Linked DNA regions of Homo sapiens: all the other regions are reported to be linked to region 1. The links are microRNA targets in miRTarBase. Many come from high-throughput screens and were not tested one by one. Region 1 holds a microRNA gene; each other region holds the end of a gene's coding sequence.
The links. Region 1 holds the annotated microRNA hsa-miR-1285-5p (GAUCUCACUUUGUUGCCCAGG, at 1,532-1,552, opposite strand). A microRNA usually pairs through its seed, bases 2 to 8, with sites in the 3' UTR of a target mRNA and lowers its output. Matches are read on the target gene's strand: a 7mer-m8 pairs with bases 2 to 8, a 7mer-A1 pairs with bases 2 to 7 and ends in A, and an 8mer does both.

Region 2: miRTarBase lists ZNF451 as a target of hsa-miR-1285-5p. Seed matches in the 3' UTR shown: 7mer-A1 at 3,634-3,640.
Region 3: the mRNA of TIGAR is a reported target of hsa-miR-1285-5p. Seed matches in the 3' UTR shown: 7mer-m8 at 151-157.
Region 4: the mRNA of RPL37A is a reported target of hsa-miR-1285-5p. Seed matches in the 3' UTR shown: 7mer-A1 at 664-670 and 7mer-A1 at 2,759-2,765.

The regions. Positions count from the first base shown.
Region 1 is chr7:92,202,536-92,206,535 of GRCh38, forward strand. It overlaps MIR1285-1 (microRNA 1285-1), which reads right to left and starts at 1,563; the gene lies at 1,480-1,563. The region is part of intron 17 of KRIT1 (KRIT1 ankyrin repeat containing); the gene reads right to left.
Region 2 is chr6:57,167,926-57,172,151 of GRCh38, reverse strand. It overlaps ZNF451 (zinc finger protein 451), which reads right to left. Exons shown (of 15, transcript NM_001031623.3): 15 at 1,847-3,729. The coding sequence ends at 3,683. It overlaps ZNF451-AS1 (ZNF451 regulatory antisense RNA 1), which reads left to right. Exons shown (of 4, transcript NR_110742.1): 1 at 1-78; 2 at 1,054-1,147. Among named protein-coding and RNA genes, the nearest start is that of ZNF451-AS1, 2.2 kb to the left of the region's middle.
Region 3 is chr12:4,351,961-4,356,186 of GRCh38, reverse strand. It overlaps TIGAR (TP53 induced glycolysis regulatory phosphatase), which reads right to left. Exons shown (of 6, transcript NM_020375.3): 6 at 1-3,927. The coding sequence ends at 3,496. Among named protein-coding and RNA genes, the nearest start is that of FGF23, 26 kb to the left of the region's middle.
Region 4 is chr2:216,501,010-216,505,235 of GRCh38, forward strand. It overlaps RPL37A (ribosomal protein L37a), which reads left to right. Exons shown (of 4, transcript NM_000998.5): 4 at 332-3,077. The coding sequence ends at 395. Among named protein-coding and RNA genes, the nearest start is that of RPL37A, 4.3 kb to the left of the region's middle.

The sequences.
Region 1 (4,000 bases):
TTAGAAGCATTCAGTTTCTATAAATACCAATTCTTATAATATTGACCACAAATACTAAACTAAGAATGTGCCAGAAAGATAATGGGTTAGGGGATTTTTAAAGTGAGGTTCTGTCTGGGAGGCGGAGGTTGCAGTGACCCGAGGTCACGCTACTGCACTCCTGCCTGGGCAACAGTGAGACTCCGTCTAAATAAATAAATAAAATAAATAAAGTGAGGTTCTGTGAATGAAACACAGGTAATTTATGTGAGTATACATTAAGTATAAGGAAAAACTAATAGTATCTTTTAAAAATGGCTATCTACATTTATATTGTAAAATATAACCTTATACATAGGAGGATATACTAAAATAGCTACTTATCAAGGTACAGACTGAACAGAGTCAAGATATCATACTACCTTAAACTGCCTTCTCTTTTAAATCAATCACCTGAAATTTCTTTATTCAAAAGCCACAAAACAGTCCATTAATATGGCTTCAAAACAGTTCAATATACAGAAAAAAATACAACTGTAGTATAGTTACTTCTCAATTATAGAAGTCAAATTTCCAACAAAAGTACTGAGCCTGTAGTTATAGAAGGTAGAAACAACTGACACAAAAAACACAACTGTGTCCCATGGCTTTTCCTATCTCTGACACTAATGTATCCCATGTAGTGTTTTAAATGCAAATGAAGGTATTTTTGCAGATGAAGGTGTTTGCTATGTTTTTGCTAAGCTTGTTGAATGCAATCCTAGTAGACCTTGGTGAATCTAAGACAACTGAGGACAAGCTGGTTGTTCCCACATTTGACGGCTGAAATATGCAACTATCTTAAAGCTTTCAAAGGTGCCATAAATTTATCAGTGGTTTACAGAGAACAAGGTAATGACTAGATGGATAGAAAATACCTTTACTCTTTGGTTCAATCACCTGTTTAGATACCCAAGGATAGCATTTCTATTTATAGTTCAAGAAACTGAACCTCTTATCTAAGGAAAAAGCAGACTGTTAATTAAGAATATTATTGTCATCCTTCTGTCTGTTACTGCTAACTCATTTATTTGAATCCTGGATCAAAGTATTATACATAATATGAAATGTTATATTTAAGTGTTAAATAATATCACTAAACCTTCATTTGAATACTATATAAAACTTTGTATTATTGCCAAAAATTGGAAAGCTAACAAACATAAAATATAGTTTAGAGAAATGGCACAGCATCACCATCCAGTTCTATGAAGAATGATTTGCAGATGTTGGTATAAAATGCTCTGAAACAGCAGAGGAAAAATTTCTTGAAATGGTGGGGGGCATTTCTCCTTCATTTCCTTTAATGAACTTAGTACAAGAGAAATAGAAAAGTGGTTACAAGCTAATAAACAGCAGCCTATTTTGTGTGGGCAAAATAGTTTTAACAGAAAATGAGGATGGTGTGGTGGCTCACACCTGCAATCCCAGCACTTTGTGAGGCTAAGGTGGGAGAATCACCTTGTAGAGATAAGGTCTCACTTTGTTGCCCAGACCAGGAGTTTGAGACCAGCCTGGGCAACAAAGTGAGATCCTATCTCTACAAATAATAAAAAAATTAGCTGGGTGTGGTGGCATATGCCTGTAGTCCCAACTACTTGGGAGGCTGAGGCAGGAGGACTGCCTGAGCCTAGGAGTTTGCAGCTGCACTGAGCTATGATGGTGCCGCTGCACTCCAGCCTGGGCAAAAGAGTGAGACTGTGTCCCAAGGAAAAAAAAAAAAGGAAAGAAAAAGAAAATGATAAGCAAATGACCCAAAAGCAAGGTGACCGCAAGAGAGCAGTGCCCAACCTTTTTGGTGCCAGGGATCGGTTTCGTGGCAGACAATTCTTCCACAGACAGGGGTGTCAGGGATGGTTTTGGGATGATTCAAGCCCATTTTATTTATAGTGCACTTTATTTCTATTACTATTATATTGTAATATGTAACGAAATAATTATACAACTCACCACAATGTAAAATCACTGGGAGCCCTGAGCTTGTTTTCCTGCAACTAGATGGTCCCATCTGGGGGTGATGGGAGGCAGTGACAGATCATCAGGCATTACATTCTCATAAGGGGCATGAAACCTAGATCCCTTGCATGTGCAATTCAAAAGAGGGTTCATGTTCCTATAAGAATCTAATGCCACCGTTGATCTGACAGGAGGCAGAGCTCAGATGGTAATGCAAGTGATAGGGAGTGCTGTAAATACAGATGAAGCTTTGCTTGCTGCTCATCTGCTGTGCGGCCCGGTTCCTTACAGGCCATGGACCGGTACCAGTCCATGGCCTGGGTGTTGGGGACCCCTGCTAGAAGAGACTTCAAGAAATTAAGCTCCAGGTCATTACTAAAATCAGACTCTATTCCACCCTATGTTCCTAGATATTTTATCTCCATTCACGTGTGTATCTATCAAAGTAACTGTTGCCCTTAAAGATAACCCTGAAAATTAATATAAAATGACTAAACTATGACTGGGATATTTCAGGAGTTATGTGATTATAAAGACCTATCAAGACACATAAAGGGGCGAGCACGGTGGCTCATACCTGTAATCCCAGCACTTTGGGAGGGCGAGGCAGTCGGATCACCTGAGGTCAGGTGTTCGAGACTGGCCTGACCAACATGGAGAAACCCCCTCTCTACTAAAAATGCAAAATCAGCCAGGTGTGGTGGCACATGCCTATAATCCCATCTAGTTGGGAGGCTGAGGCAGGAGAATCGCTTGAACCCCGGAGGCAGAGGTTGCAGTGAGCCAAGATCACGCCATTGCACTGCAGCCTGGGCAACAAAAGCGAAACTCATCTCAACAACAACAACAACAAAAAAGACACATAAAAATGAGGAAAATAAAAACTGGGTTTACAGTGAAATTTCCTAATCTAAATGCCTTTTAAAAATGCATAAGCTTCATTATTACTTTAACTGATTTGGTCTATTCTTAACAAATCTTAATTAACAAATTACGAGGCAGGTGGATCACTTGAGGTCAGAAGTTCGAGACCAGCCTGGCAAACATGGTGAAACCCCCCTATGAAAAACACAAAAATTAGGTGGGCTTGGTGGTTCATGCTTGTAATCCCAGCTACTTGAGAGGCTAAAGCGGGAGGACTGCTTGAACCTAGGAGGCAGAGGTTGTAGTGAGCCAAGATCACACCACTGCGTCCAGCCTGGGTGACAGAGCAAGACTCTGTCTCAAAAAACAAAACAAAATGAAACAAATTAGATTTGATTTTTATTAGCTTCCTATTATAAACTAAAAAGCTGTTCATCCCATTTAAATGTGTTAAATATGCCAAAAAATAACTGATAAACCTGTATTTTATAATGACTTACGGTTAGAAAAAGGAGCACCATAAACTAACTTCTAACTGAAGAGCTCTAAAGTGGGATTGAAAAGGGTCTAACCCACCTACTGCTGCTGTCACCTGTGCACATAGTGCCAGGAGGTCAACCCACCTGCCTGCCACCAGCACCTGCAAACTCCAGAGGTGGGCTTGGAGAGAAGCCTGCCCTGCCCACCACTGCCACCAGCACACATTATCTAGGGTCCTAAGGACAAGCCTGCTCTGCCCACTGCCACTGTCAACTGTGCCTAAGCATGCCATCTAAGGGCCTGAGGACTGACTCAACTAGCACGCTGCTGCCATTGCCTGCATACACCATCAGAGGGCCTGACGACAGGCCTGTTCTGCCTGCTGTTGGTGCCTGTGCATTTCATCTGGGGCCTTAAGTACTGTTATGCTCTGCCTATGCCTGCTGGCGCCCACATGTACTATCTAGGGGCCTGAGGAAAGGCATGCCCTGCCTACTGGCACAACTACTAGTGCCTGAGCACTGGTCTACCTGGAGTCACAGTCCCCAGAAAAGCCTACTACAGCCTTCATTAACAACCACAGTCTAAGCCACTGAGGGACTCTCAGACACCGCTAATGCTCATTAAAGCTGAAGAAATCACAGGGAGACTATACTACTGCACTCACCCAGAATCAAAGCCA
Region 2 (4,226 bases), not on the chromosome of region 1:
TTTCTCCCAGCACCCATAATTCAAAGCAAGAACAACGACATTATGGGGAGAAAACGTCCTTTTGTGAAACAGAAGGCAGTAAGTACAGCTCGTAGGCAGCCCACACTCACCTGACCTTCCTGTTACCACTTTATACTGAGATGAGAGTAATGAAAGCCCGGACAACACTGAAGCTATGAAGTAAAAAAGAAAAAGCTACTCCATCTTTCCCTGTCTAGCTAGATGTGGGAAGCAAAGTGAATTTACTTCATTTTTACCATTCTAATTTTCTTTTGTTTTTGAGATGGGGTCTAACTGTCGCCCACGTTGGAGTGTAGTGGCGCGATCACGACTTACTGCAGCCTCGACCTCCCGGGTTCAAGCGGTCCTCCCACCTCAGCCTCCCAAAGTGCTGGGATTACAGATGTGAACCACCACGCCTGGCTTAATGAAGGGGTTTTAAATTTTTGCTATTAAAATTATTCCTGTTGAGCGAGCCGAGATCTCGCCACTGCACTCCAGCCTGGGCGATAGAGCGAGACCTTGTCTCAAAAAAATAAATAAATAAATAAATATTCTGAGTGAAATAATTGGCATTAAAAAGTCCTCAACTTTTAAAAATCCTGTTAACAAAAAAGATGCAGTAGGCCTCTAGGTCAGGCACCAGCTGTCGGTAAAAGACGGAATAGAGCTGAGGATACAAAGATTAGTCTACTTAAAAAGTTAGGCTTTAGTCCCCTCTCCTGATAGCTCTATGCCTCTCATTGCAAGGATGACAATGTACAGGGCACAGAAAATGATAGATAATAATAGTTTAAAGCTGAGCCACCACCTTTAATCAGAGATCAAAGCCATTTAAATACTTGAACAGAGTTGAAGCCCTTAAGGCTGGATCCCAATTCCCTCTGAACTCATTTTAAATCCTAATTAACTCTTGGGGTAGGGGATTATTTGACCTTATTAAAAATAACTTTATCATGACACAAACGAAAACAAAACACATTTTGTGAGTGGTTTGAAAGTCTATCAAGTGACTTTAGAATCATCCTGAACTCTTTTTCTCTCTTATCCTAGATCCACACCATTAGTAAACCCCATCAATTTTGCCTTCAGAATATATCCAGATTCTTCCCAATTCTACCGCCACCATTCTGGTTCAAGCTACCTGGTGAGTTTGCACCTGGAATACTACAATACCTTCCTCTCTGGTCTCCCTGCTTCTACTCTTGCCTCTCATGTACATGTTATCTCAGTGCAGCAACTACAGCAATCCTAAATAAGGCAGATCATACCATTTATTCTCAGAAACCTTCACTGGCTCCTTACCTCAAAGTAAAAGCCCAGGTCATTAGAAAAACCTCAGTAAGTTCATTTCCTATTACTCTCCTAGCTCATCCTGTCAGCCATACTAGTCTTCTTGCTTTTCCTTGAATATACTAAGCTCCTGTCTGGACCTTAACCTCCTCCACCTGGAACTCTCTTCCCGATATGTATTTTCATCCTCATTCCCTCACCTTCTTCAGGTCTTTGCTCAAGTTTACCTATCAGTGAGATCTTTTCTGACAACCCTATTAAAAATAGCAAGCCTCCCCCCAACTCCCTGTCCCTGCACTATTTATTCCCTTCCCTTCTTTATTTTCCGTCGTTACACGTATCACCATCAGATATGCAGTTTTATTGCCTTGCTTACTAACATTGTACAATCCCCTCCTCTCCACCAATATGTGCTCCACAGAGGGGTAAGGGCTTTGTTTTGCTTACTGGTATATTCCAAGTGCTTAGAACAGTTGCTGGCACATGGTGGGTACTCAATATTTTGTGATTGAATGAATTAATGAGTGAATGATGTAATGAAAAGATAAGCATCTTTGTCAATGTTAGAAACATTTACTTCTGACGATAATCCATATAGCTTTCTCTGATGTTACACAGCGATTACATCTCCTTGTGTCTAAATTAAAGTCAAAGTATGAATTTTAAGATGATTTTTAATTATTTAACAAGTAGAAATACGATCAGTGACAATTATCAATTAAAACATTAAACAACCCAGTTACCTTTTCTTAACAGTCATGATGAAATATCCCTTTCCTGTCTTATCAGAAGCCTTAATTATTCTCTACCACACACACCACAAAAGCTTCTTAATAGAGCATCAGTGTCCATCACACCTTTGTGTAGAATCTCTGGCAACAAGGTGCTGTCTCCTCTTGCCCTGCCCCCACATCTGCTTAACTACTCTTCTTTCTGGAATGCCTCTTTTGCTCCCATTTTGTGAGCTCCTGCAGATGTGTTTAAGGTCCAGCTCAGTGACTACCTCCTAGAGCCTTGCTTGACCACTTAAACATACAAACTAAAAGCACAATGTGGTCATTTCGGAAAGATGATTGATAAATTCTCAAGCCACAATGTCTAGTTTTTAAAAAATGCAAGCAGGGAGGAACAGAAGTGACATATCAAGAAATTAAAAACACAAATTATAGATTGAAAAGACTATAGTAATAAAAAAATTCAATTTCACACTAAAATATTTAGTGTTACAGAGAAGGAACCAAATTCTAGCCTTTATATTTTGTCTTAAATATAAAGAAAAGCTTTATATTTATAGAAATGTTTTTAAGTTTGGTAAATAATTACTACTAAAAATTTTTAGAGATAAGACATTTCTGGTTAAATAACATGAAGCATATACACAAAGATAATATGACAAGCCCTTCTTAGTCTTCTACTTATGTCGTATTTTTTATTACTCACAATGGGGCCTCAATATTTAAGAATTAAATATGTAATACCAAATGAAGGAAACTGACAATTCAGTGAATAACTAAACTGAAAACACTTCACATGAAATAAAAATTTAAAGAGTTAAGGAAGATTATTCCTGAGTAGGCTTTCAACATTATTTCTTGAAGAATATTATGTTTACACCAATATATAAAAAAGGACTGTTATGAAAAATAATTTTATGCAAATATTCTGACACCATTCCCTTTAACCAGGAGACCATACAAGTCACATAAAAGTCTAAGCAGGTAAAAGGAATGGAAATTGTTTCATTTAAATTATTTCTTAAAAATTAAGGTGTATTTTTTATTTTAGCAATGTGCTGCTCTAATTAAAGCAATAATTTACATATGCATGGCACCCACAAAGAACATTGCTGATAAAATTTTAAATGTTTCCATGATCAGTTTCCATTACCCTCTTCTAATAAACATAAACAAAGATCTCAAAGGTATTATATAATAGTGCCACATGAGAAGTAGAATTTATGGAAAACTTGACCTATGTCACCTTTTTTATATTCATTTTCACTGCTAAAAAAATAAACTAGCATCATTTGTACAGTACAAATAAAATTAAAGAACTAATGCTATTTGGGAAACAACTGTCAAGAGCTTTCCTTTTTTTTAATCCTTTAAATCTAAATATATAAATTCAAAGTTAACTGGGAAACTGTTACACCTATATTAGAATACATAATTTATATTTGCATGAACATGTATTCTATTTCTTCTGTACATGTTTGCACATTAGCACAAAAATACAAAACAAAGATCAGATTTTGAACATATGAAAGCAAAAACATGTTTTCAAATACATTTGTAATAGTGGATTTCTGGTCTCCTTTAGAAAACAAACTCAAGAATTCGTTATCTCAGTCTCTTCAAGGCCACTTGATGTTGTGTGGTAATATCTTTAATTACATTTCCTCAAGACTTCTTCTAATAGCTTCTTCTAATTCCACATCTGCATTAAAAAACATAGAATTTTAACACTTAGGGCAGAAAACTCAACATGTGCTGTATTTATTTAAGTTTCATCGACTGTATTCTTTTCAAGAAGGAAAGTAAAATCAAAATGGAAAAACACAGGATAACTTGGCAGTTTCTCTACTAAAAAATTGAGTATTTTGAAATATGAAAATCTAGACATGATCTTGAATTGAATTTTATATATGAACTTAGAACTTGCAAGTTAATTCCACTTAGGAATGTAGAAAGTCAACAAACTTTTAAAATCACTGACAGGTAATCATTTGTTTCAACATTTAAAAAAAAATCTGTATCACTTATTTGCTAAAAGACTTGAGGTGATACATATAAGACTTTAAACAGAAAGGCAACTCCATGAAATGACAAAATGTCACAGGCCATTAAAAATTTAGTTTAATTTTTAATTATACCTCAATAAAGCTGGGGAAAAATTAGCTTAAAGCATCCTAGCATCTAAGGTAGTGAAACTCA
Region 3 (4,226 bases), not on the chromosome of region 1:
ATGGCCCAACAGCCAGTGCTGCCATCTTCCCTGCCTCCAACCTTGTGCTCCTATAGCACCCCCTACAGCCTGCTCTCCACATTGCAAGCAGGATGGTCCTGCTGAAACAAGTCTGATCACATCACTGCCCAAACTGGCCAATGGCATCTCATCTCACTTGAGTAAAAGCCCAAGGCCTCAGCACAGGCCACCAGGCCATGTGGCCTGTCCTCTTCTCCCGTCACTCTCCCATCCCCCTTGCTCAAAGGAGTCAAGCCTGATCCTTCCTCATGGCCTCTGCACTCTACTCCTTCCATGCTGCTCCTCTCCCCAGAGCAGCAGATCTTACATCCTTCAGTGCTGACACCATCGAGTCCTCCCTGCCCATCCTGGATAAAGCAGCATTCCTCCCACCAGTCTCCATCCCCCTTACTCTGACCTATTTTGCTCAACAGCACTGACCACAATGTGAGCCAACACACTGTCTTCTCTGACAGAACAAATGTTCCACAAGGACAGAGACTTTGTTTTGGTTCATGGCTACATATTCACAGCTTTATCATAGTTGTAGTAGTTCTTAAAATAGCCTGGCATGTGTGTGCCATGCTCAAAAAATACGTATTGAATAGATGAAGAGATGCATGTGACTCCAATAAAATTTGTAACAGAATTTTTCTGGAAATTGACCAATTGATTCCAAAATTTATATGGAAGAATAAAAGTGCATAAATAGTTAAGACAACTTTAAAAATGAACAAGAGGAGGTATCCACCCTTTAAGACAGTCAGCTGCAAAGCCACAGTAACTAAGTATGACACTGATAAGGAAATACACAGATAACTAAAAGAGTCCACAGACTCTAGCAAATGAGGGGGTGTGAGGCCTGAGAGCACACACCACAAACCAATTGGGAAAGAACAGCCTTTACAATGGTGTTGGGATAACTGTTTCAACCACATGAAAAAAAAAATTAAATTCTTACCTTATACTATAAAAAGCAAATTTCAATTTCAAGATTTGACATTCAGAAGTTCTCAAAAACTGTAAGAAGACATTACTGTATGACCTCATGGTAGAGAAGTCTTCTTAAAGATACACACCAAAAAAACCCCATAAAGGATAAGGTATATTGGTTTGTCTTAAAAATTAAGAACACATATTAAAAAAATGCATCATAGGCCAGGCACGGTGGCTTATGCCTGCAATCCCAGCACTTTGGAAGGCCAAGGCAGGTGGATCACCTGAGGTCAGAAGTTCAAGACCAGCCTGGCCAACATGGCGAAACCCCGTCTCTACTAAAAAAAAAAAAAAGGCCAGGCGTGGTGGTGCATGCCTGTAGTCCCAGCTACTCAGGAGGCTGAGGCACAAGAATTGCTTGAACCCGAGAGGTGGAGGTTGCAGTGAGCCAAGATCACGCCATTGCACCCCAGCCTGGGCAACAGAGAGAGACTCTGTCTCCAAAAAAAAAAAAAAAGAAAAAAAGCAAAGAAAATAAAAACTGAATATACCTAAATGCCCACTAATAAACAAAAATGTGCTATATTTAATAGAATAGAGTGGTTATAATTAACTAGATCTATATATATCAACACAGAGATGCCTCCAAGACATAAGTAAAAATAAAGAACACAGATGGCTTGATATTTATTTTTAAAGCACCAAAACAGTACCATCTCCTTCCAGACACTAGGTGAAAATATAAGGAACAGATGAACATTGCAAGCAGATGAACAGGTGAACATATACACAGACTCACTGCAGTGGCTGCCTCTGGAGGGAACAGGACTGTGAGAGCTGGTTAAAGAGAACTCTACTTTTATCTTTATGTTTTGTTTCTTTAAAAAAAAAAGTGGAAAGATGACTTCAGTATGGTGGGAATGGAGATAATTATTGTCTGTCCTTTTTGCTTATTTTTCAAATTTTTATTTACAGTATACTTCCTCTGATGCTCAAACACGTGCCCTGTTTCAATACTGGTAGAAAACTGGTAGTGCTAGACACACTAAGAACAATATAATACTGAATTTTACATATGATTTAAAATGATGTCAAAGTAAATTTTGACTATATGTGACTATAGCCTTAACTGACAACTTTAGTATTAACCCTCTTTAAAGTTGAGACTCACAGCATTTAGCAACATGGTGACTTAAAAGCGAACTACATGTAGAACAGTTTCTTCATTTAGATAAAGATTTCTGAAAGACCAATCTTGTGTATAAAATTAAGTTAATCAAAATCCCTTTTCTCCAGTGCCATCTGGTGGAAAGAAGAGGCAACCTCACCTGTACCTGCCACAAAATAACCACAGCTGTGGTTATCAGAGCAACATTCTCTCCCCCCCAACCACCCCGCCTTCCCTGCCCGCAGAGCACCCTCTGTCATCCCCTCTGTCACCTAGGCTGGAGTGAAGTGGTGCGATCTCGGCTCACTGCAACCTCCACCTCCCGGGTTCAAGCGATTCTCCTGCCTCAACCTCCCAAGTAGCTGGGATTACAGGCGCCTGCTACCACGCCTGGCTTTTTTGTATTTGTAGTAGAGACAGGGTTTCACCATTGTTGGCCAGGCTGGTCTAGAATTCCTGACCTTGTGATCCGCCCGCCTCAGCCTCCCAAAGTGCTGGGATTACAGGTGTGAGCCACTGGGCCCGGCCCAGAGCACCATTCTTTACAAAGAAGGCCCCTCTTTTATTCTGATTACTGTGTGGTGTTCTGTTAACTGTTTACTTTCTTTAGAGCCTTCCTCAAACTGGAAATTCTTCAGCCTACAGGTTAGATAAGAAGCAAGTGGATATTCTTCATTTTTTTGGCTTTCCTGGTTTCCATTGACTTGACTTTGGCAAGGCATTATTTAGAAAAGGCTGTTCTTCTATCTTCTGCTCCAAGATTCTTTCTTTACTGTATTTAAATCAAATGTTTTAACTTCTTCCCCCAGACCATTCTGCAATCATAATCTGTATTCATCCACATTTCAAGCCCTCTAGAATAAAAAATTCCAATAGTTGATTTATACGTAAAACATGTTAGTGTTATTTTGCTTTACATAAACTTATAAGGATTTTTTATTTAAAGGATTTAAAAATATAACACAGTCAATATAAACATGTACTGGGAATTATAAACCATTCTTTCTTCTAAGCACTGGATGAGATACTAAAAACATACAGTATCTTACCAATAGCCATTAAAATAGGCTAAAATGAAAAAGAAACCGTTGTAACAAGGTTACTAATCCCCCAACTTTCAATGCTGAGTTCCTTCATCATCCATGTGCAATCCAGAGATGACATCTAGCAGGGTGGTAAAATTATTCTGGAAAATGCCAACTGTACTTGGACAAAATAAGTTAATTCTATATGGTTGTCCATTAAAGTTTTATGTGGCTATGGTTCCACTGGAGCTAAAAATTGGCTTTTAACTGTTTCCAAATCAGAACTAGCAGAGGAGAGAAGTAAATAAAGCCAATGGCACTCCCTTCAGAGGCTCAAAATGGTTAGATTTTGATGCAGATTTAACCTTAGCGAGTTTCAGTCAGTCCATTTAGATGATCCTGTAGGTTCATACAAATACACTGAACCGTTGGTTTAACTTCTCTTCCTTCCTCAAAGTTTATGATAAAGAGACTCATCCCTGTATTGGGAGTGACTGACATAAGTTCAGATCTGCTCAGAGTGGCTGGTAAGGAACACTTAAGGTCAGTCAGAAAATAATCAAACAGACTTCTCATGTAAGCACCGTGACTCACAACTAAGACACTGGCTGCTAATCCTGGAATACCGCTGTCTGAATTAACTTTAGAGCTGTGATTTTTTCCTAAAGGAAATATCTCTGCCAAAGAAGTTTCCAGACAGTTGCTTGGAGATCCTTGGGAAAACTGTTCTTTTTGATCCGCTTCTTTCAGGATTAGTTGACAAAGAAATTCAAAAAAGTCTATTCCACGCATTTTCACCTACAAGAAAAGAAATAAAAGTCAAAATAAAGTGACATTAATGACTTCCTTAAAACGTTAACATAGAACATAACTGACTGGATTTTTTTCTAATATTGAATGCCAAGTACTACACAAGCAGAAGAATATCAATCTACATTTCTATTCGTTCAATCAGTAGTTTCATGGACATATATAAGTATCCACCACATTTCTGGAATTACAAAAGCACCATGGAGACCAAGATGAAGAAGATCCAATTCCCAATTCCTGAGTTCAAAGCACTCACGGTCTAGTTAGGGAAATCTACAAGCCAACAG
Region 4 (4,226 bases), not on the chromosome of region 1:
AACTGAGTTACTTATAAAAAAAAAAGCAACTCTGGTTGAGAAATCAGATGCATGAGATTGTATGTCTAATTCTGCAAGATCCTGAAGGCATGGCTCTTAAAGGATGCCATCATGTAGTTTAGAAGCCACTAATTTCCGAGGAGTAATCTAATGTTGGTTAGATCTTTGGATTGACTGCAGCAAAGTATTGGTAGAGCAGTCTATCTCAGTATAATTCTTTCTAGGAAAATTTGGGAAGCGACTTTAACACAAAAACGAGGCAGATTTACTTATTTGCCATTTTCTATGTTAACATGCTTAATTATGTTGGAAACTGAATCTTTCTTTCCAGTACCACTTCCGCTGTCACGGTAAAGTCCGCCATCAGAAGACTGAAGGAGTTGAAAGACCAGTAGACGCTCCTCTACTCTTTGAGACATCACTGGCCTATAATAAATGGGTTAATTTATGTAACAAAATTGCCTTGGCTTGTTAACTTTATTAGACATTCTGATGTTTGCATTGTGTAAATACTGTTGTATTGGAAAAGCATGCCAAGATGGATTATTGTAATTCAGTGTCTTTTTTAGTAGTCAAATGGTAAAATGCAGCATAAGAATATAAGTCTTCCAAGTTAGATATGAGTGTTAGCTTTTTATAAGTCTGCTCCTGCCAGTTTGACTTTGAGATACATTGGAGCCAACTGTAAACTTTAGTTTTTAAATTACAGTTAGTTTTTTTGTTTGTTTTTGAGGCGGAGTCTCTGTTACCCAGGCTGGAGTGCAGTATACCAGTCTTGGCCCACTTCAACCTCCACTTCTTAGGTTCAAGCGATTCTCCTGCCTCAGCCTCCTGAGTAGCTGGGATTACAGGCACGCACCACCATACCTGGCTAATTTTTGTATTTTGAGTAGAGATGGAGTTTTCACCACATTGGCCAGGCTGTTCTTGAACTGACCTCAAGCGATCCACCTGCCTTGGCCTTCCAGAGTGCTGGGATTACAGGTGTGAGCCACCACGCCCAGCCTTGCATTTAATATTTTTATAATGTGTCTAGGCTGGGTGCGGTGACTCACGCCTGAAATCCCAGCACTTTGGGTGGCTGAGGCAGGTGGATTACTTGAGGCCAGGAGATTGAGACCAGTGTGGCCAACATAGCAAAAACCCGTCTCGACGAAAAATACAAAAAATAGCTTGGTATGGTGGCACATGCCTGTAATCCCAGCTACTTTGGAGGCTCAGGCACAAGAATCACTTGAACCTACGAGGCGGAGGTTGCAGTGGGCCAGGATCGTGCCACTGCACTTTATTTAGCCAGGACAACACTCTGTCTCCAAAAAAAAGTTTCTGAAGGTAAAAGATATACTAAAGGATATACATATACTGCCTCTTCTATGATGTTTCATTTGACCTACACCATCAGCATCTTCAGGAAACAGTATGAAACTAATTTCACATTAAATGTTGCAAACGTCTGCAATTCTCCAGTTTTTAGTTTGCACGTAAGGATTCGTAGGATTGATTTCAGATTGACAGATGGTTGTAGTAACAAAAAAATGAATTGCCTTGGAGAATTCGAGTTATTTTAGGCCTGCCTTTGACACTTTTATGCACTTAATTCACTGCCAATTTAGTCTAACTCCTCAACCATCTGTGGTATGGACTTCTCAGTCCTCCTAATTGGTATGTCTTTTATCTATCCCAGAGTCAGTAGTCCTTTAAGGATGCAAATTTAATTCGATAAGAATGTGGATTTACTTCATCTTTAGGACAGAGTAAAAACCTTTATTTCACTTGGTCTGACCCCTATCTTCTATAACTTGTTTTTTTGCTCATTACTGGCCTTTGCACGGATGTCTCCCTTCACCTGTACCTCCTGCATTGCCTCTGGCAGAAACATCGCTACCCCAGGAGAATACTTCACTGGGTCAGGCATTTGCTAGATCCATAGCAGTAACTCATCTGTGGATCTCATTTGTGTCACAAAATGGTACTCCTACTGATTTTGTAATGTGAAGCAAGTACTGTGGGTCAGTAGGGGTAGGACCAGGAGTGACAAGTCAGGATTTTCAGGCTTCATAGGAATGACACAGCTCTCCAGGTGAATCTCCTGGAGAATTCTCCATAGGATCTCCAGGTGAGTGACCAGGATTTCATGTAAGCATAGGGAATTGAATGAGCATTAGATGGTCTAATGCTGCGGTTAAGAACACCAACTTAGCCAAACTGCCTAGATAGTTGGGTGACTTGGGTTAAGTGACTTAACCTCTCTGCTTCAGTTTCCTGTATAATTCTTGGTAGTAGAATGGAGTATATGCTGGGTGTTTGGATTATTAATTTGGAGTCTTACAAAGCTGCTATGTTACATGATTAGGCATGGAAAACTTCGGTTTTTATAATCAGTGAAGTACTGCTTTTTGTTTGTTTTCTGAGAGAGTGTCTGTCACCCAGGCTGAAGTGCAGTGGCATGATCTCAGTTCACTGCAGCCTCTACCTCCCGGGTTCAAGCAGTTCTCGTGCCTCAGCCTCCGAAGTAGCTGGGATTACAGGCTTATGCCACAAAGCTCAGCTAGTTTTTGTATTTTTTATTTTTAGTAGAGATGGGCTTTCGCCATGTTGACCAGGCTGGTCTCAAACTCCCAGGCTCAACTGATAACGTCTGCCTTGGCCTCCCAAAGTGCTGGGATTCTGTAAGCCACCTCACCCAGCCATGTATTGCTTTTTTATGACAGTTAAAAGAGGAAAGGGCGGGGGACAGTTTACAGACCAGTGAAAGTGCTGAGATAAATATTTTTATACCTAAGGAAATAGTGATTTTCCCAAGATGATAGGGAGGCAGGTGATGTAGATAGGGCTGAAGATTAGATTTCTGGCTCCTATCTGTGATTTTCTGCTGTACCAGTCTGCCTTCTATTTTATGGGCTCAGTATTCCTTACCTGCCTCTTCCCATGCTAAAGATGGCCCACCTTCGTTTTGTTATTTAAGCAACTTCATCCCCTGGCTTGTTTTCACAGTGGTTTTCTGAGCCTTTGACTCTAAGTCATCTAATTGAACATTGTGTTGTGATATAAAAAGTAAGTTAGGCTTGTGTTTTTCACCAGGCCATTTCATTGTATCCTAACTAGGCGGGTGGCTGTGATAAATGTACAGATTAGCCAATACAGAATCACGTCTAATTCCAAGTTTTCTTTTGGGTATGAAGTTGAGACATGGGGAAGCTTGAGCTTTGTTTTGTCAGCAACAGGTGAGGTGGAGAACTGGGACTGAAGGGGTTTGGGGAGGATCTGTTTAAGATTGGAAAAAATACATCAACTTGGGAATGTAAGCAACTAGAACCAAGCAATCTGTACAACGTTTTTACTGTTGGCTGTCTTCCTCTGGGAAACTAAAAGCCATTTTGTTGATAGCACTTCAGGTCAGAATTCATCAACAGGGAATGGAAACATTGTTTATATGCTTTGGGGTACATCAAGATAAGTTGAGGGTCAAGTTAATGTCATGCCACAATCAACCCTGTATGTCAGGGCCCTTGAGAGCAGAGTAGTGTCGGGAGAGTGGGTGGTATGGTTGACACAAAGACCCACAGGTATTTTTATGGGTTCACTTAATGAAGCAGGGGCTTAGTTGAGGGTAGAGACTGTTCATTAAACCAGCCTTTGTTGACCACTCCCTGCAGTATGGACAGGACATGATCACCATCCTTAAGTCCCACTATAGCAGGGGGGAAACAGTATGCTTAATTAAGCTTAATTATAAACTCTTTGAGTTAGAAAACTGGTGAAAGTGTTATTTCCTCCTGAAGTAATTATGTATATATACATGCCAATTCCAATCAGAATGCTAATTTTTCTTTTTAACCCCAGAGCTGTGCAAAATGTTTCTCAAATTTATTCAGGAACATAAACAACAGTTGGAAAGGACAAGAACTGTCTCCAGCATAATGGTTAAGAATGTGGAGGCTGAGGCAGGACAATGGTATGAGCTGAGACTGCACTGCAGCCTGGGCGACAGAGCAAGACTCCGTCTTAACCAAAAAAAAAAAAAATAATAATAATGTGGATTCTAGAGTCAAGCAGGAGTTATTTGGTTGTTCTGCTATACTAGTTGTGTGACCTTGGAGGAATTATTTAATCCTCTCCTGAACTTCAATCTTTTTTTTTTTTCCCCCGAGATAGAGTCTTGCTCTGTCGCCAGGCTGGAGTGCAGTGTCATGATCTTGGGCTCACTGCAACTTCTGCCTCCTGAA